Linked DNA regions of Homo sapiens. The protein of the gene in region 1 purifies or fractionates together with the protein of each later gene. This does not show direct contact. Each region holds a gene or a part of one and is shown on either strand. Other genes may lie near its edges.

Evidence for each region.
Region 2: the proteins of KCNG4 (region 1) and CST1 purify together in Homo sapiens (affinity purification with mass spectrometry; 2 studies listed by BioGRID and IntAct, with this or other methods). This does not show direct contact.

What each region holds. Positions count from the first base shown.
Region 1 is NC_000016.10:84,223,013-84,238,868, forward strand, and holds part of KCNG4 (voltage-gated potassium channel regulatory subunit KCNG4), read right to left. Parts: intron 14,514-15,856; 5' UTR 14,474-14,513; coding exon 13,718-14,473; intron 9-13,717; coding exon 1-8. UniProt on the Homo sapiens protein: Regulatory subunit of the voltage-gated potassium (Kv) channel which, when coassembled with KCNB1, modulates the kinetics parameters of the heterotetrameric channel namely the time course of activation, deactivation and inactivation and on the voltage-dependence of activation.
Region 2 is NC_000020.11:23,742,308-23,758,223, forward strand, and holds CST1 (cystatin-SN precursor), read right to left. Parts: upstream 8,629-15,916; 5' UTR 8,560-8,628; coding exon 8,332-8,559; intron 6,823-8,331; coding exon 6,709-6,822; intron 5,593-6,708; coding exon 5,509-5,592; 3' UTR 5,255-5,508; downstream 1-5,254. UniProt on the Homo sapiens protein: Human saliva appears to contain several cysteine proteinase inhibitors that are immunologically related to cystatin S but that differ in their specificity due to amino acid sequence differences.

The DNA.
Region 1 (15,856 bases):
CATTCGCCCTGCGGGGAGAAGAGGCAACAACGCGGGGTAGAGAGTGGACTTGCAACTGTGCTGGAAATCGGGGGACGACTTCATGCCCATGAGCTTTGTGCTGTAAACTTAGTCGTCCACCAGAACCTCCTTTTACACAGTTTTCCAGTTGTGGCTGGGTACACAGCAGATCGGCTAGGTCAGAGACTGTTCTTTCTGGCTTCCCTTGCCGCTAGGTGTGGCCAAATATGACTAAGTCCTCACCTCCGGACTGGAAACAGAAGTGATGCAAACCACCTCTGGATCTAACTCTTGCACACTCTTTCCATCCTTCCTGTGAGCCGGGACAGCACAAATGGGCCTGCAACCCAGCTAAGAAGAGAGGACTGGACCAGCGCCCCAGGGGAGGAGGGAACATCAAGGCGGGAGAATCTGGAATAAGAGTTGTCGATACTCACCTACATCCCTCACCTTGGGACTATTGCACAAGAGAAAAATTTGGCTTAAAACTATTCTAGTTTGGGGTCTCTTTGTTATAGCTGCCAGCCTGTACCTTAATGATGTTAAGTACCTTGGGGGACCACGCACTGCTCTCCTGCTGTCACTCAAGCCACATAGCAATGTTATGAGCAGGCAGTGTGACCCCATTTGATGGCCCAGGAAGTTGGTCACAGCAGTGAAGTGACTCGCCTGAGCTCACATACATAGGAGGCGGTACCAGGGTCTCTTAGATACTGTTGGCTATTTTGTAACTTTGTTGTTTACCACCCCTCATTCATTTAGCTAACAGAAATGTATGGAGGGCCCACTTTGTGCCAGGCATGGTTCTAACCCCGGGCATTCTGTGACTAGACAAACAGATATCGTTTCTGATGGCTTGAAGGCTGGTGGGGCAGAGAGGGTTCCTGAATCCCCAAGACAGCCCTTGGGATGTGTGATTGCTGCCATCGACATGCGGGATTCTAGCTCAGCAGTTCCAGCTGGGCGGGGGCCGTTCTGAGTTCTGTATTTTGTTCTTCCTCCCCAGTAGTTCAGGGTAGTTCCACCAGTCCTTCTGCCACTCAAAGTGTGGACCTTGAGCCAAAAGCATCAGCCTCCCCGAGGAGCTTGTTAGAAACACAGCATCTCAGGCCCCACCCCATCCCACGGAATCATATTCTGCAGTTAACAAGGTCTCCAGGTGACTCATGCAAACTGAAGTTTGACAGGCACTGTTCTAGTGTGTGGTTCTCAAGCTTGGCTGCATGTTGGAATCACCTGGGGGTTCCTTGAAACATTCTGTTGCTTGGGCAGGGTCCTCCCAAGATTCTAATTTAATTAATGTAGGTTTGAGCTGCACAGTAGAATTTTCCAGAACCCCCATGGATAATTCAAATGTGGAGCCAGGGTAGAAAACTTTGCTATACATATTTACACACACACACACACACACACACACACACACACACAGATATGTATATTTGATGGATGAATGGATGAATGGCCAAAGCAACTTCTCTGTGTAAAAGGCAAGGTGTTGACAACCACAGTTTTCTCTGGATTAAAATGCTCTGAAATGGAAAAAGAAATTATTTCCAGTGTCCACAGAAATCATAAATTGAAATGTTCTTTATGCCTGGCTGCTGGAGAAAGAGAAAGAGACTGAACCACGACAGTCTCTATTTGCCTGTCCAGGGCAGGGCACCTTTCTGGCTGGACTTCTGTGTGGACTATTGCAGGGGTGGGAGTCAGAGGCAGCACTGCCAAGGGGTGGAGTCCAGAGTGTTCCAGCCTCTTCTTTGGAAACTGAAGCACAGAGAGGGTCAGTGGCCAGTGCGAAGCCACACAGCAAGTTTTTAGCAAGATTGGAGAATCAGGAACTTTCTGTGCCCTACCAGCCTTCAAGCCCCCCAGAAACCATGTCTGCTTGTCTAGTTACAATACTCTCAGAGCCTAGCGCAGTTTCAAATCCCATCTCTTCCACTTACTTGGGCAAATCACTTGTCTCCTCTGGACTTTCAGTTGTCTAACCTCTGGAGGGCTGTCATGATGAATGGAAATTATGCACATAAAGCCATTAACAGGACCGTGCACCTAGCAGGCACAGGATGCGCTGTAGCCATTTTAACCGAACTATACATTGGTCATGGACCACAGTCTCCTGGTCAGTGTAAGGGTAGCAATACCTTCTTCCTGTTGCTGGATATTACAGGAAGATGAGGGGATTCTCCAGCCCACCGAGAGGTCTTTGCCATGACTGCCCAGGGTTTGCTTCAGGATCCTGAAGGGCTCAGAAGTTTTGGGTTCTGATTCCCCAGCCCTGCTACAAACTTGCTGTGTGACTTTGCAGCGGCCACTGGCCCTCTCTGTGCTTCAGTTTCCAATGCAGAGTTTGGAACAGAATTGGTATTTCTGAAAGCTGATTTGGAAACCCTGGCACCAGAAGCCCCCAGGGTGCTTGTTGTAAATGCAGATTCTTGGGCCCCCATCACAAAATCCAAACCTTAGGGTGGGGCCCGGGAATCTACATTTTGGTAACTCCCCCCATTCACTCTGAGGCACCTGGAAGGTTTTCAGACTCTGAGCTAGATTCTGCCTACAAGGCCTCTCTCTTTGCAGACATCCTGGGAGTTTCTCCCTAGGCTTAAAATACTTATAGCCTGGGAATAACTTTTCCATACTGATGACCCGATAGCTCAGGAAGGTGACTCCTGAGAGGCCGAGAAGGCGCTGCCAGGTCCTCCTCCTGCCTGTGGGGCTGGCATTTGGACACTCAAGCCATGCACACCGGCTCCTGCCCTCCCACGGCCTGGCCCTCTGGCCACCTCTCTGGACTGCAGCAAGGGCTCTGCTCTGCCGCGTCACTGCACCTGCATCAGGCTCTGCTGTGCATCCTAAATCCAGCCTCCCAGCACTGGTTCCTCAGAAATGCTGGCATTGGGGCAGGGGGTGTTTATGGAGTGTGGGCAGAGGAAATAACTCCCAGCTTAGCAAACATTCGAAGAAAAGAAAAAAAGGGGAAAGAAGGAAAGAAAAAAGTTTTCCTTTCTCCCTTTGTGGAAGTTCTGTGCTTAAACCCAGAAAGTTCCGGGTCCTAGGAACCCCCTGGGCCCTGGGCACACCGGGATGGTTGGTCACCCTATTCCTAGCCCTTGCCACAGGCAGAGCGAGGTGTGTTCTGGCTCCTTCCTGCAATGAAGAAGAGCAAGCGTCAGCCTGGAGAAGGCCCAGGGTGTGAATGGTGAAACAACACCGATGAATCCCACAGGCATGATGTGGAGCAAAGCAAGCCGGGTGTGTGTTTCCACTTGTGGGAAGCTCGAGAACAGGCAGCCTCATCTAGGGTGCACAAAGTGATCAGAACAGTGGCTGCCTCTGGGTAGTGTAGGGATGGCCTGTGAAGGGCCACGAGGGAGCTTTCTGGGGTCACAGAAATATTCTATACTCACAGGGGAGAGGCTGACACGGGTGCATCCGTTTATTAAATTCTACACCTAGGATTTGTGCATTTCAGTGTATGTACATTTCACCTGTAAAACTGTAGAAGAAAAATAGTAACAAATGATTATAAGTGATCTGAGGTGGAGAGGGGATGGAAAGAGAGGAAACAAGAATGGCAGAATATTGGCTGGGCACAATGGCTCACGCCTGTAATCCCAGCACTTTGGGAGGGCAAGGTGGGTGGATCACCTGAGGTCAGGAGTTCGAGACCAGCCTGACCAATATGGTGAAACCTTGTCGCTACTAAAAATACAAAAATTAGCCAGGCATGGTGACACATGCCTGTAATCCCAGCTACTTGGCGGGCTGAGGCAGGAGAATGGCTTGGACCTGGTAGGCGGAGGTTGCAGTGAGCCGAGATTGCACCACTGCACTGCAGCCTGGGCGATAGAGCGAGACTCCGTCTCAAAGACAAACATACACAAAAGCGGCAGAATATTGACCATTGTGTGTAGCTAAGTCATGGAGTCATGGTTTCCCAGAAGTTCCTTATATTATTCTATTTACCTTGTAAATGTCTGAAGTTCTCCATGATGAAAAGTTAAAAAAAAAAAGGATAATCAAAAGCACAATAAGACACAAATTGACATCCACTAGGATGGCTAAAATCATAAAGACAGACAATAGCCAAGTGTCGGTGAGATTGTGGAGAAACTGGAACCCATCACTACTGGTGGGGATGTAAAATGGGGCAGCGGCAGTGGAAACAGTTTGGCAGGTCCTCAAAAGGTTAAACAGAATTACCATGCAACCCAGCTGTTCCACTCCTAGGTGTATAGCTCAGACAAATGAAAACACATGTCCACACAAAAACTTGTACACAGGCCGGGTGTGGTGGCTCACGCCTGTAATCCTGGCACTTTGGGAAGCCGAGGCGGGTGGATCACCTGGGGTCAGGAGTTTAAAACCAGCCTGGCCAACATGGTAAAACCCCATCTCTACTAAAAATACAAAAATTAGCCAGGCATGGTGGCAGGTGCCTGTGATCCTAGCTACTCGGGAGGCTGAGGCAGGAGAATCACTTGAACTCAGGAGGTGGAGGTTGCAGGGAGCCAAGCTTGTGCCACTGCACTGCAGCCTGGGCGACAGAGCTAGAATCTGTCTCAGAAAAAAACAAAACAAAACAAAACCCAAAAAAACTTGTACACAAAAGTCCATGGTAGTATTATTCATAATAGCCCCAAAGTAGAGACAACTTAAACATCCATAAACTGATGAGTGAATACATAAAATGCGGCCTATTCATACAATGGAATAGTAGTCAGCCATGAAAAGGAATGAAGGGCTAAATCGTGCTACAACATGGATGCACCCTGAAAACACGATGCTGAGTGAAAAGAAGCCAGACACAGACACGACATGTTGGATGATTCCACTTATGTGAGATGTCCAGAGCAGGCAAATCCACAGAGACAGAAAGCAGAGGGGTGGGTGTCCGGGGCTGGATGGAGGAGGAGGGTAGCAGTGATGGCTGCACAGCTCCACGATGATACTAAAGACCACCGAATTGTGCACTTTAAAAGGGCCAATATTGTGGTATGGGAGTTATCGTCGGAGTCTGAGCTGGCTGAACACTCCTGGGGGAGGCAGGAAGTGGAAGTAGTGGGGGTCCCACAGCCTGGCCCTCACCTGTTTCACGCAGCAGCAGAGCGGGGCTTCCTGAGGGCAAAGCTGCTGCCCTGGGGGCCCTGCAGATGCAATGCAGGCCAGTTCTGGAAGCTCCATCTGGGAGGGGCTCAGGGCCCACAGTCTTGACCTTGGAGACTTCCTCGCCCCCTCTGTCCCTCCCAGCAAAATGCTGCCAGCCCCACTTCAGAACGTGGCCACCTCTCACTTCTGCAGCTCCTTAGTCAGGGCTGGTCCATTCTGCAGCTCGGCATCCCTCCCTCCCCTCCCTCCTGCTGTGAGTTCACCATTTGTGCCTTTGGCCCTGGCCCGAGGCCCTGAGCTGTTTCCTCTGAGGCTCTCCTGGGGCCTGGATGTGCTGACTCACTCCTCTGCCCACTCCTTTAGCCACTTTTCTCTCGGCCAGCCGTGCCCTCCGCTACCCTCCCCTCCTTTACTCCGCTCCCATGGGCCTCCCCCCAGGCACTACTCACCCCGAGCCGCAATCCCTCCTCCCCAGGTCTCCCCGCCACCCCCCCGCCCACTCCTTCTAGCAGCTGTCCCCACTTCCCAACCCTGGGACACAAGGGCTCTGAGAGTGCTGGAACCAACCGGACGGGGTCAGCCCCACCATGGGACCTGGCCGATGAGTCATCTCTCTGAAGGCGTCTTCCCTTCTGTGAAGTGGGGAAGGTAACTGTCATCCCACAGGGCGATTGTGGGCACCCGGGAGACCCGCTGAGGGATGCTGCAGTGTAGAAGCTTCCCAAATCTACGCTGCTTCTCTTCCTCCTCAGTCCTCTCCCGCTGCTGCCCTCCGGTTCATGCCCTGTGGCTGATCCATCACCGGCTCTCCACGGCCTTCACCTTGGGCGGGTTGGATGGCTGACTTCTCTTCTAGAGGTTCCAGCAAATTCTTACTAGAAAGCAGCTGCCACTGGGCTGGGCATGGTGGCTCACGCCTGTAATCCCAGCACTTCGGGAGGCTGAAGTGGGCAGATCACTTGAGGCAAGGGAGTTTGAGACCAGCCTGGCCAGTGTGTGGAAACCCTGTCTCTACTAAAAACACAAAAATTAGCCTGGCGTGGTGGTGCACACCTGTAATCCGTTACTCGGGAGGCTGAGGCATGAGAATCACTTGAACCCAGGAGGTTGGAGGAGAGCCGAGATTGTACCATTGCACTCCAGCCTGGGCAACAGAGCAAGACCCTGTCTCAAAAAAAAAAGAAAAAAAAAAAGCAGCTGCCACTGAGGGAGCATTACTAGCTTAGCTGCTGTCAGGCAAGTTGCATAACTTCTTGAGACCCAGTTTTCTGATCTGTAGAATGGGATTGTGGTGAGGATTAAATTAGGAAACAGGGAAATGACTAGCACAGGGCCAGGAGCCCAGCAGGGGTCTAAGAAGTATCCACTGACTCTGAATCTCACAGCGGTTCTCCCCGTGTGGGGAAGGCGGGCCGCCATCCCATCGCCTCTGTGCTGGTGTCCCGTCAGCAGTCACCGAAGGAGAGACCTAGGGACTCTCCCAGTGTCCAGCACAGGCCCGGCCTGCAGGGGCCCTTCCTGAACGACTCATGAATGAGTGTGGGTGGTGGCGTCTGCATGGGGCATTTGCGGGGGGCTGGAGTTGGACCTGCAGAGGTGGGGGGACTGTGAGGAGGCAGAGGAAACAGTGTCACCTGCAGAGCATCAAGGAGGCCCCAGGCCAGGAAACAGGGAATATTGCTTCTTGGCTGGGACATAGGGAGAGACACAGCTGCAGGAAAAAAACAAAAGCAACAAAACTAGGATAAGAAGCATTCGCTAGAGCAATTACCAAATGCCACCAAGCACAGAGAAGCTCCAGAGAGCAGGCCAGTTTTTTAGGAAGCTGATTCATGGTCCGAGAAAGGGACAGATGAGGAGGCAGGAGCTGGCTCTTGTACAGGGCCTCTTACTAAAGGGTGAGGAGGCAGGGAGGTGGAAATGGCACCCCAAAAGGTGAGCTGCATCCCGGGGAGGAGGCCCCAAGAGTCCCGCCTGGTCTTTGAAAAATCTCTCTCTGTGGGCCAGGCATAGTGGCTCAGGCCTATAATCCCAGCACTTTGGGAGGCGAAGGCTAGTGGATCACCTGAGGTCAGGAGTTCGAAACCAGCCTGGCCAACATGGCGAAACCCCGTCTCTACTAAAAATACAAAAATTAGCTGGGCATGGTGGTGGGCGCCTGTAGTTCCAGCTACTCGGGAGGCTGAGGCAGGAGAATCGCTTGAACTCAGGAGGCAGACGTTGCAGTAAGTTGATATCGCGCCACTGCACTCCAGCCTGGGTGACAGTGAGACTTCATCTCAAAAAAAAAAAAAAAAAAAAAAAGCCAGGCATGGTGGTGGGCGCCTGTAGTCGCAGCTACTCAGGAGGCTGAGGCAGGAGAATGGCGTGAACCCGGGGGGCAGAGCTTACAGTGAGCCAAGATCGCACCACTGCACTCCAGCCTGGGTGACAGAGCAAGACTCCGTCTCAAAATAAACAAACAAAGAAAACTCTCTCTGTGCCTTCCTTCCCCTGCCCTCCACCTTAGTAAGACACTGAAATGTCTACAGTCCAGGATGAGAGGGAAGGCGAGGACCAAAGAGCCCGTGCAGTTCTGCTCCCTAAGCCCACCATGGTTCTGCAGAGACATCACCAAGGGCACCTTACTTGGTTGCCATAGGGTGTGCATGTCCCTCTGACAATATCCCTGAAAGCCCCAGGCAATGCTGTGGGGCAGGCGTAGCACCCAAGATGGGAGGAGAACAGTGGGAAGGCCGGCAGGGCTGGTCCTGCGCGTGGCGAGTTCGCCTGCTTCTCCCACCGGGTCTCCAGCCAGAGCAGGCTCTCAGAAAAGACGCGCTGACAGCCGGAGCAGAGGAGGAATGAGGGCAGACACTGGAAGGGGATGGAGAGGACATTTGAGCCACCGGCCCCTGACTTGGCCATTGCTATTAGGTTGGAGGGAGCCAGGGATGGAGGCTGGTGAGCAGAGCAGCAGAGCAGGTCCAGGGGTGTGAGCCCAGCCCCAAGGGGGAGCAGAACAACAAGCGTCCACTCTGTGCTGGCCCCTGATATACAGGTTCTCGTTCAGTCCTCAGCACCGCCCTCTGAATAGTGTTATGATTGTCCTCTTTGCTGGGTGAGGAAATAGAGGCACAGAGAAAGAAAAGGACTTGTCCAAGGGCAGAGCCAGGGAGTGGGAGAGCTGGGACTCAACCCAGGACGAGCAAACTAAAGATGCTGGCCCTTACCCTGACCTGATACTATCTGCAGTGGTTGGGATGTCTTAGTAGCAGGAAAGAGGAAGAAAGACAGTCCACTGCAGGTGGCCAGTGGTGTTCAGGCTGCCAGGAGGGAGGGAAAGGCAGAGCTGCCCGGCCAGGGCTGAGGCCACATGGAGAGGGTGCGAGGGATGCATGGCAGGGAGGACAATGAAGGCAGAGGGAAAGGAAGAACCTGGGAAACTGCAGCAAACAGACCAGGACATGAGGCTGCAGGTGCCCAGGGCTGGAAGGGCACTAGGGACCAGTCAGCCTGTAAAATGACAAGTCCAGACCATCATTTTACCAGCAGAAGGTTGAGGTCCAGGGGTAGACGTGACCTGCCCTGGATCTCCCAGTGCATTCAAGTGAGAGTCGGGGTCGGGCGTGGTGGCTCAAGCTTGTAATCTCAGCACTTTGGGAGGCAGAGGAGGGCGGATCACCTGAGGTCAGGAGTTCGAGACCAGACTGGGCAAAATGGTGAAACCTCATCTCTACTAAAAATACAAAAATGTGCTGGGGATGGTGTTGGGTGCCTATAATCCCAGCTACGTGGGAGGCTGAGGCAGGAGAATTGTTTGAACCCGGGAGGAGGAGGTTGCAGTGAGCTGAGATCACACCACTGCACTCCAACCTGGGTAACAAAAGCAAAACTCCATCTCAAAAAAAAAAAAAAAAAAAGAGTCAGGACTAGATCTCGAATCCTGCCTATTGAAAGGGGTCTGTATGGCAGCCATGGGAACAGAATCTTGGCTTCATGTCTCAAATCCATCTTGTTCCTTGGAGGTGGGGGTCGGTCTTTGGAACGTGTCTTTCTATCTTCAGCTATCAACATGGAGCAGGCCATCAGTGCTAGATGGATAAACCAATAGTGGCATATACATACAGTGGAATAGTATTCGGCCATGAAGAGGAATGAAGGTCTGACGCATGGCACAGTGCATGGACCTTGAAGACATGATGCTGGAGCAGGAAGCCAGTCACAGAAGACCACACCTGGCACGATTCTGTTTCTATGAAATGTCCAGAATAGGCTAATTCATGGAGATAGAAAGCAGATGGGTGATTGCCAGGGGCTGGTGGGAGAGGAAGGAGGAGAGACTGCCTAGTTGGGACAGGGTTTTCTTTTGGAATGCTGAGAAAAAGCTTTGGAACTAGACAGAGGTGATGGTGGCTGCAGAAGATTGTGATTGTACTAAATGCCACTAAATTGTTCCCTTTAAGTTGCTCAATTTCATGTTATGTAAATGTCAACTCAGAAAAATGAAGCAGGGGGCTGGGGTGCAGTGACTCACGCCTATAATCCCAACGCTTTGGGAGGCCGAGGTGGGAGACTCACTTGAGCTCAGGAGTTCGAGACCAGCCTGGCCCACATGGTGAAACCCATCTCTACAAAATGTACAAAAATTAGCCAGGCGTGATGATGCCTGCCTGTGGTCCCAGCTGCTCAGGAGGCTGAGGCGGGAGGATTGCTTGAACCTGTGAGTCAGAGGCTGCAGTGAGCTGAGATTGTGCCACTGTACTCCAGCCTGGGGGACAGAGTGAAACCCTATCAAAAAAAAAAAAAAAAAAAATAGAGCAGGGCTGCTCAGAATCTAAGCTCCAAGGAAATCAGAAATTTGTCTTCTCTCCAGCACCCAGAAGAATGGACTTTAGTAGGCAGTCAATGACTGTTGTTGAAGGATGGTAAAGGATGAATGTTTGGTTTCCTGTTAACTACTACTGAATGAATGAATGAATGAATGAATGATGATCAGTATGACGGACTTTCGCTGAGCACCTCCGTGTTTCGGCCTGTCCCAGCTGCTTTATGCACCACATGACCCCTTGAGGGAAGTGCTTAGAGCACCCCCATTTCATAGAGGAGGAAACTGAGGCTCAAGGAGGTTAAGTGACTTTCCCAAGATCACTGGGTTAGTCATGGGTGAGGCCAAGATTGAAACCCAGGACATCTGGCCTTCGCACCATCATGCTGGCCTGAGAGCTGTTTTACAAAGTCTGGCTGCCTTAGAAGCACAAAATGGCCCTGAGGCTGAGGTTCTAGACTAGAGGCGAAGTGGCCCAGAATTGAAAGTTAGGGCTGGGCACGGTGGTTCATGCTTGTAATCCTGGCAGTTTGAGAGGCCAAGGCAGGCAGATCGCTTGAACTCAGGAGTTTGAGACCAGCCTGGGCAACATGGGGAAACCCTGTCTTTACAAAAAATACAAAAAATTAGCTGGGTGTGGTGACACCCACCTGTAGTCCCAGCTACCTGGGGGGTTGAGGTGGGAGGATCACTTGAGCCCAGGAGATGCAGGCTGTAGTGAGCTGCCAAGATCATGCCACTGCACACTAGCTTGGTGATAAAGTGAGATCCTGTCTCAAATTTAAAAAAAGAAAGAGAGAGAGAAAGAAAGAGAAGGAAAGAAGGGAAGAAAAATAAAACGAGGGTAGGAAGAAAGAAAACAAAAGAAAAGGAAAGGAAAGAAAGATGGTATCAGTGTTGTGTAGTCATAGGGGGTCGGATTTTAGAGCCAATCAGAGGTGAGTTCAAATCTTAGCTCTGCCTTACTGTGAGCTTAAGAAAGTGATAAAACCTCTCTGAGCCTCGGTTTCCTCATCTGTAAAATGGGGGTAGAAGTGGTATTCACTTCCCTATGCTGCCACAGGGATGAAATCAGTCCACGGTGTGAAATGCCAGCCTCACGAGCGGCACTTAGGAGGCATCGGTTCTTTCATCCTTTTGGGGAAGAGTCCCCCCTGGGAAATCCGGAACTTTAAAATCCGGTGCCCCTTAGAAGAGCTCAGGTGCTGGCTTGGTCCTTCCTGTCTACACTGCCTCTTCCCTTCTCCACTGTAATTTTTTTTGAGATGGAGTTTTGCTCTTGTTGCCCAGGCTGGAGTGCAGTGGCACAATCTTGGCTCACTGCAACCTCCACCTCCGGGTTCAAGCGATTCTCCTGCCTCAGCCTCCCAAGTAGCTGGGATTACAGGCACAAGCCACCACACCTGGCTAATTTTTTTTTGTTTTTTTTTAGTAGAGATGGAGTTTTACCGTGTTGGCCAGGCTGATCTCAAACTCCTGACCTCAGGAGATCCACCCACCTCGGCTTCCCAGAGTGCTGAGCTTACAGGCGTGAGCCACTGCACCCAGCCTCCATTGTAATTTGCAATCTCTGGCACAGACCTTTTACCCCACTATCAGGTTTATGCCAACGGACGTTGCTATGAGAAGGTAGAAAAACAGAAACTGCTTACAGCAAATGTCCATCCATTGTTTCTGTTTCTGATGGAAGAGTTCTGTGGGTTATAGCCCTGGGATCTGTTCCCCCACCCATCGTGACATTAATTCTTCAGCGTGGATGGTATCAGGGTCAATTTACAGGACACTGGCCCCAAACTCAATGGGCACTGCCTGTCCCCAGAAGCAGCTGGTCCCTCTCAGATTGACATTCCCTGAGGGCAAATAAGGAATACAAAGCACGTGTGTCCAGGAAGAGGACATCATCCTTTTACGTAAATGTAAGGTCACCGTCTTGGGAGAACAAAGACTGCCCCGTCCTCAGCCTCCCTGCTCTCTGAATTATTATCTAAACGGAAACACAGACACTCTCTGGGCAGCACCTCAGCCTGTCTCTGGGCACACACACAAAGATGCTTTCACTAAGGAGAAAGCATAAAGATATTGTGGCTGGGCCCGGGCATAAATCTCTCTTGTCCCAGGAGGAGACGTGGCTGCCTGATCCTCGGCTGAAACTTTGGCTGCGCAGGTCTGCGGGCCCACCTCTCCCCTCTAATTTGATTTCCTGAGTCACTGTTAAGCCAGGCCTGGGTTCATACCCTGCGTAATTTTCAAAGCATTAGGTTTTGAAAAGATCTTGGCCGTCTGCGCAACCGAAATCCTGGCTCCTACACAATTTCTCCCTTCTCTGGAAATCTGTAAGAGGAACAGGCTTGTGAGCATCCAGGGGCCTTTCTTTATTAACTGGGATCAGGGCACCCTTAAGAAATGGGGTAGGGAGGTCACTTGTTTTGTCTTAATCTTTGTACTGCAGAGTCCACACATAAATATTTCTGTGAACAAGCAGGCTCTTAAATCTCATGTTTTTATGCTGTAGAATGAAAAAATGCCTATGATTGGCATTGTCATCTTCTCCATGGGAAAACAAGCTGTTTAAAGGTCCAAATATTTTGTGGGTTTTTTTAGGGCCAAACTTTTGTAGGTTGGACAAGACACATTTTATTCAACCCATATTTACTGGGATCCTACTGTCTGTGAGGCATGGGCTGGTTCTCCATTTAAGTCTTTTCTATCTGGCAAGTTCTCTGATCCTGTTGTCTTGCCCTGGGACATATCTTTAAGCGAAGAGAACTTAGGTGGGCTGGCAACTGTTAGGAGCCAAATAGAGCAAGCACCATCTTACGTATGTGTTTAGTTTCTCTCTCTGTTGATTACAAGGCAAGCTCCAAACATTAAGATGATGGGCAGCCCTGGGGGAGCTCGGTGCTGGAGAGGAGTGATTTTTTAAATCAGGAAACAATCTAATTCTCTGTTTGAAGCTTTCCAATAACCCTCTCAACCAAATGCTAGGTTCTTATTTCACTTCTCAGACCATCTGGCTCCCGAGTGGAGGGAGGGTGTCTCGGGGTCTCCTGTAACTCCCTGCAAAGGGGACGAAGGTGTGGGCAAGCAGCACTTTTTACTCTGGCCTCCTGGGGCAGAGTGACTTACAGATCAGCTCATCTGTGAGTTTCCCATCCAGTGAGACTGGCCCAGACACTGAGCACTGCAGGGAAACTGAGGCCGGGGACCTTTGCATCATTGGCATCCTTACTGTGGAGCTCCGAGGAAAATAAATGGCCCATGCCTCAGTTTCCTCATCTGAAAATGGAGTGGGGATGCCCAGGAGAATGTTAGCTCAAGAAGGCAGGGATTTTATGTTTTTGACCTGCTCTAGGGCTTAGCACAGAGTGGTGTTCAGTAAACACATGTTGAGTTCACTGGGTGAGTAAACCTTCGAGGTGATGTTACCCATTTCACGGAGTGGGAGACAGGCTCAGAGAGGAGGTGGCGTGATTTGCCTGTAGTCACAGACTCGGGAGAGCTGGGAGAGGTGACACTGTGTCTGTGTGGCCCACTGAGTCCACGCATGGCTGAGGGCCACGTAATGATTTTCACGGTGAGCCTTAGGCACTTTTGCCTTTGCAGGACTCCAATAAAAAAAAAAAAGATGGAAAATTATCTTTTATGACTGATGGCCTAATAATGAATATAACCCATGTTGGATAATATTCATTTTTTTCTTCTTATTTTAAGATCTGAAGACATTTTCTTGGGCCCCTAAAAGACATCTCCGCCCAGGCACCCTGCGGGATGGAGCCGTGAATGCCATCAGAGGCCGCTCACCTGGTCCTCCTCTGCCCTGAGGTCGGGCATGGTGCTGACACACAGGCTGACGGCTGTGGTGGCCACGAAGAGGATGGAGAGGCAAGCGAAGACCTTCCCGGGCAGCCCGGACTGCGGGTTTTCCACCATCTCGCGCAGCCGGTTCATGCACAGGCCCCAGCGCGAGGAGTGCGAGGCGGGGCGGCGGGTCTCCCTCTGCTGCCTCAGTACGTCCTCCCTGTGCAGCTTGGCCAGCTCCTCCAGCTCCTCCAGCTTCCTCAGCAGCTTCCGCAGGCAGCACCTCTCCAGGTGGGCCTCCTCGATGCCCCAGTAGGCCAGCTCCTCCTGGAAGGACAGCGCGCACATCTCCTGCAGAAGCACCAGCTTCCCGGCCGCCAGGAAGCTCACGATCACCCCGAAGGCGCTGGGGCTCCTGTCGAAGAAGAACTCCTGGCTGTCCTCGTCGTAATCATCGCAGAGCTGCACGATCTCCTCGTAGCTCCGACAGAGCCTGAGTTTGCTCAGGCGGCTCAGCGGGAACCGGTCCAGTGTGCTCCAGGGGAGGAGATACCTCCTGCCCCCCACGTTGATCAGGATCTCCTTCTTCAGGTCCACTGGGGAGGCGTCCAGGGCACCCACCTTCCGCACCCTCCGGTAGTAAAGGCCCTTGATGGACGGCGTCTCCATGGGGCTGGACAGGAGCTGACTCCAAGGGCTGTGGGAACCATAGTGGTGGTGTCTGGGATGCAGGCCCCCGTCTCTGGAAGGCATGGGCATTGCTGAAGACCACCAGGTAGGAAGCGCTGGGTTTACCAGTCTGACACCCAAGGGACAAAGAGCAAGCAAAAGGAAGGGAAATCAGTCTTGGGGCAAAGAGTCCTGGATGTCACGACTGCAGATGTTCTTACGTGTGCTTTCCTGTGACTGCATCTGCATGGCTTGTTCTTTTAACCTTTAGTTCAACACATATTTATTGAGCACCTACTATGTGCTTGGGATACATCAGTGAAAAAAACCCTTCCCTGGTGGAACCTCTACCGACATCTCAGAAGGATGTCTCCAGAATAGACGTTGCACGGATGGGGGCTTGAGTAATTCAGTCCTGAGCTGGACAAGTCGGAGCGGTGCCACTTCTGGGCTCTGTGGTCTCAGGTATGTGGCTTAACCTCTCTGATCTCAGCATCATTCATTCAAATGACAAGACTCATACTAATCTTGCAAGGTACAGGTAGTAAAAATAGAGCTTAAGAATGTAGGCTCTCAGGTTCACTGGCAGGGACCGATCCCTTACAGACTGCCAGCACAGGTGGGTTACTCAGTGTCTCTGAGTCCTTTGCTTTATCTGTATGACTGGGGCAGTCTGAGTGCCCACATCGTAGGGCATGGCAAGGGTTATATGCAGTAATATACAAGAAAGTGTGTATTAATAATACTTCTAGATGCTTCTGACATGCCTGGCTTCCCCTAACTCACCTCAACAACCTCATGAAGTAGACATAAGAGCTCCACTTTATAGATAAGGAGGCTGACGCACGGAAGGTTTGCGTGTCTTGCCTACTGTTTAGCAAGCACCTGACATCAGGAAGGTTCAGCGAGGGTCTGTTATTAAAGGTTCGAGTAGCCCAGGAATGTGACTATGCTTAGCGAGCATCCAAGCATCTAGGTCTCAGGAGGAACTCCACCAGTCTCGCTTAATCCCTCTTGGTCGCTTCCCCATTTGGGGAGGCCTTTGCTAAGGGGACGGAGGAGCATTGCGTACTTGCAATCACAGTACTCCTCCATGTTCGTTGCGTGCTTGCCTCAGCCATCCTTGCTGTGTGACCTCCAGCCAGTTACTCCCCCTCTCTGGGCCCGCAGGCTTTTATGTGCAGAATGAAGGGGCCTCCAGCCGCAGTGGTTCATGCCTGTAATCCCAGCACTTTGCGAGGCAGAGGCAGGCAGATCATCTGAGGTCAGGAGTTCGAGACCAGCCTGGCCAATGAAACCCTGTATCTACTAAAAATACAAAAATTAGCTAGGCAAGGTGGCATGTACCTGTAGTCCCAGCTACTCGGGAGGCTGAGGCAGGAGAATCGCTTGAACCCGGGAGGCGGAGGCTGCAGTAAGCCGAGATTGCGCCATTGCACTCCAGCCTGGACAACAGAGCGAGACTCCATCTCA
Region 2 (15,916 bases), on another chromosome or scaffold:
GGAATAAAAGCTGGCCACCTAGCCAGCAGTGGCAACCCACTTGGGTCCCCTTCCACGCTGTGGAAGCTTTGTTCTTTCACTCTTCACAATAAATCTTGCTGCTGCTCACTCTTTGGGTCCTCACTACCTTTATGAGCTGTAACCCTCACCACGAAGGTCTGCAGCTTCACTCCTGAAGTCAGTGAGAGCACAAACCCACCAGGAGGAATGAGCAACTCCAGACATACCACCTTAAGAGCTGTAACACTCACTGTGAAGGTCTGTGGCTTCACTTCTGAAGTCAGCAAGACCACGAACCCACCAGAAGGAAGAAACTCCAGACATATATGAACATCTGAAGGAACAACTCTGGACACACCATCTTTAAGAACTGTAACACTCACCGCCAGGGTCCGCAGCTTTATTCTTGAAGTCGGCGAGGCCAAGAACCCACCAGAAGGAACCAATTCAGGACACAGATAGGTGGAGCATTCTGTAGATGTCTATGAGGTCCAATTGGTCAAGTGTCAAATTTAAATCCAGAATTTCTTTGTTAGTTTTCTACATTGATGATCTATCTAACACTGCCAGTGGGATGTTGAAGTACCCCATTATAATTCTGTGGCTAATTCTTTTTGTAGGCCTGGGCATACTTGTTTATGAATCTGGGGGCTGCAATGTTGGGTGCATATATGTTTAAGAATAATTAAGTCTTCTTGTTTAATTGAACCGTTTGTCATCATGTAATGCCCTTCTTTGTCCTCTCTAAATTGCTGTTTTGTGTTTAAAGTCTGTTTCATCTGATGTAAAAATAGCAACCCTCTCCCTTTTTTATTTTCTATTTGTGTGATCTCCCTCCAACCTTTTATGTTGAGACCATAGGTGTCATTACGTGTGAGATGGATCTTTTGAAGACAGCAGATGGATGGGTCTGGGTTTTTAATTACAACTTGTAATCTGTGCCTTTTAAGTGGTGTATTTAGGTTGTTTATAATCAAGGTTAATTTTTGTTTGTTTGTTTGTTTGTTTGAGATAGAGTCTCACTCTAGCACCCAGGATGGAGTGCAGTGGCACAATCTCAGCTCACTGCAACCTCCGCCTCCTTGGTTCAAGTGATTCTTCTGCCTCAGCCTCCCAAGTAGCTGGGATTACAGGTGTGCACCACCATGCCCAGCTAATTTTTTGTATTTTTAATAGAGACAGGGTTTCACCATGATGGCCAGACTGGTCTCGAACCCCTGACTTCATGATCCGGCCGTCTCGGCCTCCCAAAGTGCTGGGATTACAGGCTTGAGCCACTGTGCCTGGCCCAAGGTTAATATTTATATGTGAGTTTTTGATCCTACCATGAAGGTGACAACTGGTTTCCTTGCAGTATGTATTGTATTGTTGCTATATACTGTCTTTGAACTATATTTAACTGTATTTTTGCAACAGTAGGTATTGTTCTCTTATTTCCATGTTTAGAACTCCCTTAAGCATCTCTTAAGGCTGGTCTAGTGGTAACAAATTTTCTCAGTAACTGCTTGTCTGGAAAAGATTGTTTTTCTTCTTTGCTTATGAAGCTTAGTTGGATGGGATAGGACATTCTTGGTTGGAATCTATTGTCTTTAAGAACGCTGAAAATAGGTTAGTGTCATGAAAATGTACTCACTAATATGGTATGTACAATAGCACACCAGGCAGTTTGTTTTTATTTTATGTTATTTTGTTTTTAATTTTACCCAAGTGAGACCCAAGTTTTTGTATTTTTTATGGGAATTTAATGAGATAGAATTTCTTGATTTTTCATGTTTGTAGGGTGCAGATCTGCGTAGTGAAACTACCCACAGCAAGGATGTATGCCTGTGAGGTGGCACAGAACTGATGGATCAGACTTGGCCTTCAACCTCCTGTTATCCTGATGAAATTGCAAGCTCCAAACAACAGAGACACAACATTGACCAACAGTAAGATGGCTTGAAGAAATATTTCTTTCAGGACAAACTCTGTGCATTCCATGAGGTAATCAATATAGTATATAGCTATACATTTGCACAATTTTGAAGCCCACTACAACAGTCAGAGTTTTAAAATGCTGTGTTTAGTGAGCATTATTGATAGAGTCTTTAAGATCATCAATCTTAAGTCAAGAAAATTTAGAAAGTACTAAAATCTTAGCGCTCACATGAAAGAAAACTGGAAGCTTTTCCAAATTAGACAACAATCAGACAAATTTGCATAGTATTACCTATATGAGCTTTGAAGCAGAAAGAAAATGTTATAATCCATGATTTTCACAAGTAGGATTGATTGTAGTATTTCATAATTTTGGATGATTGTATTATTTATCAGAATTTTAAAGTGATCAAACTTAGTGGAAAGACTGGTTTATCTTTCTGCTATATTTATGGAAAATTCTATTATAAAATCAATGTCATGTGATGAAGCAAATAGTTACTCAATAGTTGAGTATGAAAACATAGAAATAACTTGTTACACTGTTGAGTCAAGTAGTTAATAAAAATGCTATGTTAGCATGTAAAAAGAACACAAATTAAGGAAGGGCAAATCTGCCCTTTCATCTGCAGGGTGGATGGATGGACTTATGAGGACAAAGCCACTGACATCATGAGCAGGAAACAATGCTTCTCTCAAGCTGCAGCTTCGAAATGTCAAACAGCCTCTTCCTTGGGTGACAACTGCTTTCTGACTCAAAGGAAGACCTTGCTCTCCAGCATCAGGGGCTGTCAGAAACTTTGCTTTTGAGTAAGTACAACATCACACTGCCTGGAGGATCTAGGTCCACCTTTACACAGAAGCACAGAGCTACAGAGAAGGGGTTTCTGGATGGAACATTCACATCTGGCTGGACTTCATGGGTTCTAAGGACAGAGGACCTGGGTCCACTTTGCAGACCAGACTTGACACTGGCTGCTTTACACTTAGGACTGCTACGTTGTGAGTCCATCACTACAGCCTCAAGAATCCCTCCCCACAGTCTTATAATAACCTCTTTGCTTTGTTTTTTTAGTCATCCCAGGTTTCTTAATGTGAATTTATTCCCTTTTTGCTACAAGCCAATAATCCTGAGTCTGTTAACTGCAAAATCAGTTTTGGTGACTGAATGCACTAGGATGTATATTAGTTTCTGGAATTTGGGATGACTGTAGCATTTTTCAGCATTTTAAAGTGAGTAATTTGTTGTGACTTATTTCCTTTTCTTAAATAAACACTAACTTCTGTGTTTAGTTTCAAATAGTTTATATTATGCTATTTTTCATGTAGATAACCCTCTGAATTATGTAAGCCTCAGACCTCACGGAACCTGGATTGCCAGTGGTCATAGTGCTGAGAATCCACCTGCCCAAGGAATGACCGCTCTGGTTCCCGCTTCCCAGGCCTCCAATGGACTTATCCCTCCTTTCAGAGTGATTTGTCTATGCTGAAGGTGGAGTTTCTAACCTCAGCGGTTTTAGGCTTTTAGTAAGAATGTGTGACATTATTTTTGCTAAAGGAACTCTTAGAAGGGGTGCAATATTTCCAAAACATGACCCTCAGTATCCTCCTTTACTCCCAAAAACCGGGTGGCTTCCGGACAGGGCCCAGACCCTCAGCTTGGTCCAGAAGATGAAGGTCCACATGCTCACCTTAAAGCCTCCCTGCCCCCTGCTCCCCTCCTAGGGAACAGACACACAAGGAGATGGTTGAGGGAGCCCTCTACAGAGCCAGACGTCCCCCTCCACTTCCCCAGGAAGAGAGATGTCAGAAAAGTTACTGGTTTACACAAAATTGTCTGTTCCTTGTGTCCTTGGATGGTGGTTGCTTATGTCAAGACAGACTTTCCCCAGGTAGAGAACCATGAGGATCTCCATGCAGGGAAGACTCTGCCCCTAACCATGATTCCTGGGCACATGCTCCTCTGCTCTCAGCCCCTGTCTTCCAACAGAAGCCTGAATCAGTGTGTGCAGCCCCCACCCCCTGACACCGGGTGAGGCCCAGACTCAAATCTCCCCAGTTCATGGCCTCCTGGGTGCTGCTTCACTTTCTTCAACGTAAAACCTTGGTTACATCCCATAGGGGTGGAGAGGAAATGAAACAGGTGCTCCCCACTCTCCCTGCCAGACCATACTCCTCCTGGCTTTCTATGTGCGGCACATGGGGTGCTGGCCTCAGGGCTGTTTCAACAGTTTCCCCTTTGTCATTTTCCCCTCGGTGTTCATGGCAGCCACTCTTGGTCAACGCAGATCTAGGCATGGAAGATAGTTGAGAGCCCTTCCCCAGAGGCACCTGCCCTGAGGGCTGCACCCCCTGCCCTGAAATGGCAAAGGGAAGGGCCGTGCAGGGTGGGCGTTGTCTTAGGACTGTAGCCTCTTCTTTAGAGCGCAACTACCCACTATTCTACAGAATGGTTTTGACACTTAGGTGATGTTATTTATTAATTAAAACATCCTTTGTGAAAAAATCGAGTGTCCACTGCATGTCACTTTCATTTGTGTTTTAGCTTCTCCATCCCTGCCAAGAAGGCTGACCTGAGTGCTCATTTTAAATTCAAGTCCAGAGAAAGGGCGGCTGGGTGTGAACGTGTAAAACTTTTCTAGGGCACAGCTTCCTAGCATAGGAGACAACCTCCCAGCCTGGGGCACACCCTCCCAGGATGGATGAGAGCAGGCGTTGCTTTCTCTGGGTGATCTTGCCTGTCTTTGGTCTGGGTGGCATTTTTCCCAATAAGTTATACACACACACACACACACACACACACACACACACTTTTGGACTTTGTTTCCATGTAGGTGCCTAAAGTCTCCTGTGGAAAGAACTACACGTTGATCGCTGTCTATTTAGTGTCTAGGGGATTTGATGAGAGCAGCTCAGTCCCTGGAGTCTGCTCCACTCTGCAAGCACAGATGGACTCTATGGCCTGGCGAGCTCCACTGAGGCCTGGCCCCTGCCTGTGGACACAGCCAGCCCCCTCCTCGTGGTCTGACCAGCAGCTCAGACCAAAACAGCAGCCTAGCTTCTGGGGCAGCTGCCTGGGCCCCCTCCTCTCCCTGACCCCCTCACCAGGGGCTGCTGCAGCTGAAGGCCTGGGTTCCCAGTCCCTGGCTGCTCTCTCCCTGTTCTGAAGCTCAGGTCTCTGAAAGTGGCAGCAGCTCCCCTGATGGCCTTGCTGTGGCTGCGTCAGCTCCCAGGTACTCCTGTGATCTCCACACCAGCAGGACAAGGAGGCTTCATAAAGGAACTGCAGAAACCCCGCCTGCGTGCACATCCCCAGACAGCCAAGAACTCAGAGGGAGGCGATGCTACTGTTTAATTGCAGGAGGTGGGGGGGTGTGTACCATGTACCAGGGCTATTAGAAGCAAGAAGGAAGGAGGGAGGGCAGAGCGCCCTGCTGAGCAACAAAGGACTCCTGCAGCCTTCTCTGTCTGTCTCTTGGCGCAGGCACATGGGGAGGCCTCCCGCAGGGTGGGGGCCACCAGTCCAGGGGTGGGAGCACTACAGGGGGTGGGAGTGGGTGGTGGCTGGTGCGAATGGCCTGGCACAGATCCCTAGGATTCTTGACACCTGGATTTCACCAGGGACCTTCTGTTCTCCCAGGGAACTTCGTAGATCTCGAAAGAGCACAACTGTTTCTGTGAAAGGGAAGAGAGAGGGCCAATCAGTGTGGGTTACAGTTAAAGGGGAAGATGCCCAGGCATGAGATGTCAGAGCCTGGGTGAGGAGGATGGAGGTGAGACACTGGGCCCTCACCCACCCCTACTGAGTCCCAGAGTGCTGAACTAGAATGAATAGTGACTGTTCCATTGCCCCTCCCAAGGCTCCAAGTCACCAGGTGGCATTGGGACCCCACCCCAGCCTGCAGTGTCCTGTCCCAGCACAGCCCTGTGAGGAGTAGCCTGGGCAAGGCCTCGGGAGCCCCAAGGGTGCAGGGCATGGGGAGGCAGCTCAGTTCCCCCAGCTCCTTCCACCTCCAGCACCCAGGCCAGCACTAAGAGGGGCCAGAGGGAAGAACCCAGGGCAGGGCAACTCCCCCTCAAAGAGCTGGGGCATGGGGCAAGGGCAACAAGGGGAGTGTGGCTCTCCCCTGAGTGGAGACCTCACAAGAACCAGCAGGTCCTTGGAGAGGCTGGTGTTGGGTGAGCCGGGCAGGTCCAGGGCTTCCCAGCTAACAGGCCTCTAGGTCCCACTAATCTGATCACTGTGGCTGTGGCTGCATGCAGGTGCCTGAGGCTGGGATTAGACAGAGCCCCTTCTCCCTGCCCAGCACACAGCCGCACAGCTGCTTCTTCCTGTCCAACAGGCAACACTCCAAAGCAGGCAGAATTGACCTTATAGTAACCATTCCCAACCTAAAGCCTTCCTAGCAAATCAAACACATCACCCTCCTCCCTCACCACCCCATCTGCACATACATGGACAACTACGTAAACTCACTTGGACCCCTCATCCCCATGGATCTATGTACAAAGCCCCATACACCCCCCACACATCCATGCACAGGCACACATGCTCCCATCCACCTCCCTGCACACACTGGCACAGGTGTGTACACACGTGCACCTTTCCACATGCACACCTACATGCACACCCCCCCATAAGTACATGAACACGTACACATCCATGCATACACGGCTCCCCACATACCCACCTGCACACACACACCCTCCAAACATGTGTAGGGCAGAGGCTGACACATACGCACCCCTCTGCAGTGCATGACTGGCCCGGGACCTGCATCAGGAACGTACCTTCTGCAGTTCTGGCTGTTCATGGAAGGCACAGGTGTCCAAGTTGGGCTGGGACTTGGTACATATGGTGCGGCCCACCTCTACGTCGAAGAAGTAATTCACCCCCCCAACGGTCTGCACACAGGAGAAAACAGGACAGCGCCCCCATCAGTTCATGCACTCACAGGCACTTCACTGTGGCTGAGTCACTGGACTTGCTTGGGGGCTTCGTGAGCTGCCCACATGTCAACACAAGGCACACAAGCCCCCTCTTCCTGTCAACTGGCAGGGTGCTGAGCCTCATACCCGCTCTTAAACATTGCTTTCTCTGTGCTGGGTAAAAGGATTCATTGAATTCTGCTGTCTGTGGCTCAGGGGCGAGGGAACACTGACTCTTTTCTAGGAAGTCTGTCTGATGACAAAATTTCACCTAACTTCTGAAAATCTTATTCCCTCCATTTAACATAGATTTATTACTTCACTCAGAGTAGGAAATGAGATGCTTCACACACACAGATATTTTGGATCAATGGGGCCGCCCGGATGCCACCATTTCAAGTGTGAGATTCAAGATACATTTCTCAAGTCAGCAGCACACCTGCGTGTCTTACAGTTGCAGATTAGAATTGAACCCTTTCCCTGCATAGGGCCTTTCCCAGACACAATGTGGCAGAGCTGTGGAGAAACCTGGGATGAGGGACTCTCTGGAACCAGGAGGAACTGCTGAGATCCCTCGAGTGTCAGTTTACCCATGTCTAAAATAGGCTTCTGGGCCTGATGGTCTGCAATGCCCTGTGCTTCACTCCAAGTTACTGTCATGCTTGAAAGGGAGATGCAGGCCAGCGGGGACCACGGCACCAGGGAGTGTATCTCGTATGCAGGGAGAGAGCCCCAGCTGACAGCTGCAAGAGGAGAAACGGGGCTGGTGGGGATTCCTTTGAATTTCCAGGAGAAGGTGGAGGAGCTCTAAAGACTGTGTCACTATTTGCTGCTGTGCCATGGGATGCAGGTCAAGCTGGGCCCAGTTGCCCTGCTGAAGCTCCCTCCCGACCTGACCCCTCCTCTGCTCTGCTGGGTGACCACTGTCCTCATCTGGCTGAGGTCTAACTGCATCAGCTGGTAGAGGCAGGGTCAGGCATGCTCCACCCCAGCAGGGACTCAGCGCCCTGGGCTGTAGGGGTTTGTCAGCCGGCCTGAGGGTGAAGGCCGCTAGCCATAAGGGGCTGTGCCCAGGGGCGTGACTTGGGGAAGCAGGGCTCTGCAGAACAGTGAGCCAGGTTCCTGTGTGGCCCCTGCAGAGAGGACTCAGGGAGGAGTATGAACCTCATGGCCTGGATCTCATCCTGAGCAGCATCAAGCCCACCCAGAGTAAGCACAGTCTCCATCCACACCTGCTGGACCCTGGGAAATGCCACAGTCATGGTACAGACACAGTGGCTGCTGCAGGTTAAAGGAAGCTGAGTTTGTGCACGGCCGGGGAGCGTGCTTAGGCATGAAGGGCATCAGCGGAGAGCCAGGGAAAGCTGAATGAATCTGAGCATTAGATCATGAATGTATCAGTGTTGATTTGCTGGGAATGCTCTTGGGGGTTGGGGAACAAACCAGGCTGGGACCCAGGACCCCTGGGGTGGAGGGAGCACCTACCTGTTGCCTGGCTCTTAGTACCCGCAGCGGACGTCTGTAGTAGTCATCTTTGGTGGCCTTGTTATACTCGCTGATGGCGAAGTGAAGGGCACGCTGTACCCACTCATCATTGAGGTCTGCGTTATAGATGCCACCCGGGATTATCCTATCCTCCTCCTTGGGGCTCCAGGCCAGGGCCACAGCTAGGGTGGCCAGCAGGAGCAGCAGGGTACTCAGATACTGGGCCATGGTCTCCTCAGAGGCAGAGCACAAAGCTGGAGCTGCAGGAGAGGAGGGTGAGAGCCCGAGGCAGGGAGCCCAGACCAGCAGGCAGGTGTGCATTTATCCTGCTTTGGCAGCCCAGCCCCACCCACCTCCATGCCCCACCCCTGACTCCTCCTCCTCTTTCTTCCCATCCCCTCTTTCTCCATCTCTCTTTTCACTCCCCCGCTACTACAAGCTCCCTCCCTGCCTAAGTTCCCCCTGCCCCTCCCAGGCCTCCTCCTCCATCTCCCCCTCCTCCCCACTCCAGTCCTCACTGCAGCCTCCCCGAGCCATGCCTCTCTTCCCCAGTGCTCCCAAGCTTGAGTCACCCAGGTCTCCACAGAGGTGACACTGGTCCTTTGACTGTGAAAGCTATGTGACTTCCTGTTTGCTCAGAAAGGGGAAAAATACAGGGCTTGGCCTCCCAGGGTCTTCAGATATCAGGGGCATCCAGGAGCACTTGGTCACAGTCTCTGAATCTCTGGAACAGGGAGATTATTTCAGAAAGTTCCAGAAGACCCTGTCCATACCCTAATGTGGAGAATTTCTTTGCCAAATTTAAGGGAATTAACCTTTTTGGAAAAGGTCACTGGATTCTCTTTTCATAATTCATTATTCAATAAGCAAACCTATCACCAGCTACTCCCCGTGCCAGGAGGTCTAGGGCTTGAAGACGGAACCTGGATGATGAGCCATAGAGGTGACATTGCAGAGCTGCTGCCCAACAGACATGTGACACGAACTCACGAGCAATTGAAAATTTCTAGTAGATGCATTTTAAAAGATGAGAATAAATGGGTGAAAGTAATGTTTAAAATATTTATTTAACCTTATATAGCCACAATGTGATTTCAGCTAATGGGAACAATTATTAATGAGATCGTTTATGTTTTTTTTTTTTTTGTTTTTTTTTTTTTTGGTTTTGTAAATCTTTGAAATTCCCTGTGTATTTTTAACACTTAGACCAGAAGTAATTTTGGACTGGCCCCATTTCAAGTATCCTGTGGCACATGTGGCTGGTTCTATGGAACTCCATAGTCCATTCCTACACAATGTGTGTAGGGGATGGTAGGTTACGATCAAAAATTAGGGTCAGGGAGTTATGCTCACTCTTTTGGAAGTGAAATAGAACAGGGGCTAGAGAGAGACCACTGGACCCTGGTCAGGGTGGTCTCTATGAGACTGGAGAGGTTGAGAAGCCCCAGGCAGTGGGGAACAGCCAGTGCAAAGGCCCTGAGGTGGGGTTGGGACATGCCTGCTCCAGAAAGTGGAAGCTCCTGGAGGGGGTATGAGGAGGGAAGGGAACGACCTGGAGTCTCACAGTAAATGTGGGTGGGGCCCGGTGGAAGGTGCACGGAGACCCCTGTGAGGCAGTGGGGGTGTCAGGAAAGGGAGCAGCAGCCACGGGATGAATGTGGGAACCCACAGGTCTCTCTTGCTTCTGTCCTAGGCAGCCATGCTTCAGGCTCCTTTCCTCTGTTCACTGCTTGGAAGACTCACCTGATATTTTAAAAATTGCCTTAAATGAGGTAGAATTTGCATACAATAAAATGCCTAATAGTATGTGCTCAATCTGGGGTGTTTCATAAATGCATACACTTGTGTTACCACTTTATCCAGACCTGTGACATCTGCCTTGCCCCAGACAGTATCTTCCTGCCTTTCCAGCCACCCTCGTGCCCACCCCACCTTGGCAGTCCCCATCCGGCCCCATAGACTCCTTGGTCGCCTGTCCTTGAGCTTCCCAGGAATGGAGTCCTGCAGAGCGAGCCCATGTGTGTCTTTGTCCTTTGCCCAGTGTGGCTTTCCGGCGGCCCCCGAGTTGCTTCATTGCCAGGATTGTGAGTTCTCCTTCTCCGCAGACTGAGAGGATTTGGTCAGTTGGGTGTCCTATGGGCTGACAAAGCCCCCAGCTCGGGATGCTGTGGGCCTGGGCTGGAATGTGACTCCAGGAGAGGAGAGGGTGGAAGGAGGCTCTGAACAGACAGCTGCTCCCTTTGTTCTCTCAACCCCACCCTCCATGCCTGAAGGTGACCCTGTGGCAAATGCCCTTATGGGGAGGTGGCAGGCTTGGCCAGAAGCTACAGGAAACCCTGGACCTTAGCAGGACACCCAGAGGACTCTCCCAGGAGTGGTGGAGGTGAGCGTTGGCCAGTGTCAGCCCAGACCTGTTTAGAACACTAAACAATACTATAATAAACAAATGACCAAGTGCAGAAACCATCACATAAAGGTGCAAGTGATGAGGACAAGCTGGCCAAGAGTCATCCTGGGCTGGGACATGGCTGGGGCTGGATCAGCAGGAACCCGGCATTGGGAACCATATTACTCATGGGTGCTCATGTTCAGTATTAGTACAGGGAACCTTGTTACCTGAGGCCTGGTGACCATCTCACCCCACTGTGAATCCAGCACCCCTAGAATAGCCGTGCAGCCCGGCAGATACAGCAGGTGTACCGAAGGTGTTTACTGCTGGGTGAAGGAGGGAAGGTCTTCAAACAAAGCTGCACATATGCCTCCTAGTTAGACAGGAAATGGGGAGAGATTTCCAAAGAAGGGAAAGAGAAGGAAGTCCCTTACCAGGTGTTTGGGAGCAGAATGGTCATCTCCAAAGGGTAGGAGTTAGTTCTCCTCTGTGGCTCCCACCTTCCTGGGACAGCTGGGAGTCCAGGCTCAGGAAGACATGCTGTGCAGAGGGTAAACTGAAGGTCAAGCAATCCTCTTGTTTTTTTGTTTGTTTTTGTTTGTTTGTTTTGTTTTGTTTTAATCATTGGAAAGGAGATGCAGGTAACCCAAATAGCGAGAATGTGCTGGTGGGTGGAGTATGAGGGAGGGAGGCCAGAGTGCTGACCTGTGCCCTGTATGTGATGACACCACCAGTGGTCATCTTCTGTCTGGGCACTGGCATGCACTGCAGGGAGGGTCAGCTGTTCTGATGCAGCAAGCTCTCTAATCCCAGTAGGAAAAATACCAGTGTACATTGCTCTTAGGAGGAGGTACAAGTGCGATGTCCAGTATGGAGTGATAGGAAGTAGCAGGTTGAGGTAGCTGGCCAGCTGCTCCAGATGTTTGATGACCTTAGGCAAATGGTGTGTCTGTCATGCATCTGGAGAAAGAGGCTACTTTCTAAAGCATAGTATCTGGGAGTTAAGACCAGCAGAGATGAGCAGACTTCAGCAGTGATGTATCAACATGGTTAAAAATGATGGAGTAGCCAGGTGTGGTACTGCACCTGTAATCCTAGCTTATTAGGAGAGTGAGTCAGGAAGATTCCTTGAGTCTAGAAGTTCAGTTTCAGCCTGTGCAACACAGTGAAACACCCATCTAAAAAAAATGGCAGAACACTTTGTTCCCTGATTTCTATAGTCCACAGTTTTAAGGACACACTAGAAGAGGGCCAGATAGCAACCATGGACTGAGGAACAAGCTTGGGGCCTCCAGCACCCATGTAACCTAGAGGAGTCCAGCTGCCCAGGAGGGGGCATGTTTTCCTTCTGCTAGGTGACAAAAGAGAAAGCTGTGTTCCCCTAGGCTGCACAGGTGAACTGATCTGATTATCTGAATTAGTAGGATGAGAAATTAGGTGAGTGGCAGAAGTTCTCTGCAATAAATGACCAATAATAAGTGAACACTAAACAATACCATAATAAATGACCAAGCGCAGAAAGCATCATGTAAAAGTGCAAGTGGTGAGGACAAGCTGGCCAAGAGTTGAGATTCTGCACAACTGGGTTTTGAGCAACTAACAGTTTGGTCTATGGTAGGAGCTGGGACTGAACAGCCACAGGATTTGGTGGCTTCTCAAATGGGAAGCCCAGGAGCCTCCTTTATGGAGTGCCTGGAATTCTCTGGGGTCAAGCTCATCTCTTTCACACTCCATCCTTCCTTCTTTTCTCCCTCTCCTCACACATCGTGGACACGTGGATGCTTCTAAATTATGGGCCCATGTTGGTAACACATTTGGCTCTGTTAGGACATGTGGATGCTTCTAAACTATGGGCCCATGTTGGTACCACATTTGGCTTTTCCACATCATTAGGAAACTGATACTCATGGGGAAGCCTGCTGGCAGCCCCGGCTGGGAAAGGCAAGAGAGGGCAGAGCCCAGTGTCAGGTCTGATTGTTTTGCACTCCGTGGGGAGAAAGAGAATCCTTTCTCTCAGGGACCAGCACATGAATGGTATTCCTGGCTCTGGAGTACAAGTTAACATTTATTTTTCAAAAATCAAAAAGAGCATTTGTCAGTGCAGATTCACTGACTGAAGAACCACATATGAATGGAGGGGAGTAGGGGCGGCCTCCGGAACTCGGGCTGCTGGCTGCTGCAGCCAGGGATCCATCTGACTCCCTGGGCTACAGCCTGCAGAGGCCTGGCCATGAGGAAAACAGATGACTCTGAGGAGGTGAGTCATCTCCTTGACATCTCTGGGTGGTCAGACTTTCTTATCCTGTTTGGGTCACTGCTGGGACTTCCCTGTCACTGTTTGTGTAACCTTAAATATCAATTCCTTTAGCAAAATGCAGTGACTGTGGAGATTGGTTCCTCTTCCTGCTTGGAATCCTGTTCAACTCAATCACTGAGTGTTGGAGCTGGAGCCAGAGGCCATCAGGACAGCCCTGCTCCCTCCTGTGGCCCTGCCTGCCCTTTCCTCCTGTCACAGAAGAGCTGGATCCAGTGACAAGACTCACCTTGACCAAACCCTTGTTAGGCTCCTCTGAGCCTTCCTCTGCCCTGGTCCTCAACCCTAGTCCCCAGCCCTGGACCTCCTGTTCTTGCGAGGGCTTCATGGCCCAGTTTTAGGAAAGAATCCTGCTAAGTCAGTTTAGAAAGGCTCCCCCCCACCCTTGGTATCTGATCACCCTCAACATCTGACCAAGTTCTTCTTTCCTTTGATGTCTAAGGCTTTGTCCTGGCTTTAGCAACAATATTGTTAGGTCAGTTTATCTAGAACCTCCTACCTTTGATGTCTCTGCTTAGTAATTCTGTTTGAAACCGTTCCAAAGCTACTTTAATAATGACCCAATCATTCCATACTGTAAGTGAGATGATTTTACCCTCCCTACTTGCTTGTTTTAATTGTTTTCCAATTTTTCTCCAATCTTTTAGATCTAAAGTTCCCTGTTCTAGAAACCATGGGCAGAATCGTTCTATTGTTTGAAATAGCGTGATTTGATTTTTTGTAGAAACACTAACTCCCCCACTTTTTACAAAAATTTTAATAGAGCTGAGATAAGAGGCATATTTACTTTAGTTTGCCCCATTGTTACCCTGGCTTCTTTCGAGCTTACCACAAGGCTGACTGTAGACGTACTCGGGAATCTCTCATCAACTTGTCCTCAGTGACCACGCTTGAGCGTACCTTCACCCTAGAGGAAAGCACCCACGTTGGGCACCAGATGAAAGGGTGGCCAGCTGCTCCACACCTGTGGGCATTTCTCATTGGGTGGGATGAGAGACTGAGAAAAGAAAGAGACACAGAGACAAAGTATAGAGAAAGAAAAGTGGGCCCAGGGGACAAGTGCTCAGCATAGGGAGGACCCACGCTGGCACAGGTCTCTCCGTTCCCTCAGTATTTATTGATCATTATCTCTACCATCTCAGAGAGGGGGTTGTGGCAGGACAATAGTGTAATAGTGGGGAGATGGTCAGCAGGAAAACATGTGAACAAATGTCTCTGTGTCATAAACAAGGTTAGAAAATGTGCTGTGCTTTGATGTGCACATACATAAACATATCTGGTGCATTAAAGAGCAGTATTGCCAGCAACATATCTCACCTCCAGCCTGAAGGTGGTTTTCTCCTATCTCAGTAGATGGAACATTCAATTGGGTTTTACAAGCAGATATTCCATTGCCTAGGGAGTAGCAGGAGACAGATGCCTTCCTCTTATCTCAACTGCAAAGAGGCCTTCCTCTTTTACTAATCCTCCTCAGCACAGACCCTTTACAGGTGTGGGGTTGGGGGATGGTCAGGTCTTTCCCTTCCCACGAGGCCATATTTCAGACTTTCATATGGGGAGAAACCTTGGACAATACCTGGCTTTCCTAGGAAGAGGTTCCTGTGGCCTCCTGCAGTGATTTGTGTCCCTGTGTACTTGAGATTAGGGAGTGGTGATGACTTTTAACAAGCATGCTGCCTTCAAGCATTTGTTTAACAAAGCACGTCCTACCTAGCCCTAAATCCGTTAAACCTTGAATCAACACAGCACTTGTTTCTGCCAGCACAGGGTTGGGGGTAGGGTTACAGATTAACAGCATCTCAAGGTAGAAGAATTTTTCTTATTACAGAACAAAATGGAGTCTCTTATGTCTACTTCTTTCTACATAGACACAGTAACAGTCTGATCTCTCTTTCTTTTCCCTACACACATCTACATGGAAACTGAACAACCTGCTCCTAAATGACTACTGGGTAAATAATAAAATGAAGTAAAAAATGAAGATGTTCTTTTAAGCCAATGAGAACAAAGACACAACGTACCAGAATCTCTGGGACACATTTAAAGCAGTGTGTAGAGAGAAATTTATAGCACCGAATGCTCACAAGAGAAAGCAGGAAAGATCTAAAATCGACACCCTAACATCACAATTAAAAGAACTAGAGAAGCAAGAGCAAACAAGTTCAAAAGCCAGCAGAAGACAAGAAGTAACTAAGATCAGAGCAGAACTGAAGGAGACAGAGACGCAAAAAACCCTTTAAAAAATCAATGAATCCAGGAGCTGTTTTTTCTGAAAAGATCAACAAAATTGATAGACCACTAGTAGACTAATAAAGAAGAAAAGAGAGAAGAATCAATAGACCCAATAAAAAATGATAAAGGGAATATCACCACCAATCCCACAGAAATACAAACTACCATCAGAGAATACTATAAACAGCTCTATGCAAATAAATTAGAAAATCTAGAAGAAATAGATACATTCCTGGACGCATACACCCTCCCAAGACTAAACCAGGAAGAAGCTGAATTGCTGAATAGACCAATAACAGGCTCTGAAATTGAGGCAATAATTAATAGCCTACTAACCAAAAAAGTCCAGGACCAGACAGATTCACAGTTGAATTCTACCAGTGGCACAAAGAGGAGCTGGTACCATTCCTTTTGAAACTATTCCAATCAATAGAAAAAGAGGGAATCCTGCCTAACTCACTTTATGAGGCCAGCATCATCCTGATACCAAAGCCTGGCAGAGACACAACAAAAAAAGGAGAATTTTAGACCAATATCCTTGATGAACATCGATGTGAAAATCCTCAATAAAATACTGGCAAACCGAATCCAGCAGCACATCAAAAAGCTTATCCAACAAGATCAAGTGGGCTTGATCCCTGGGATGCAAG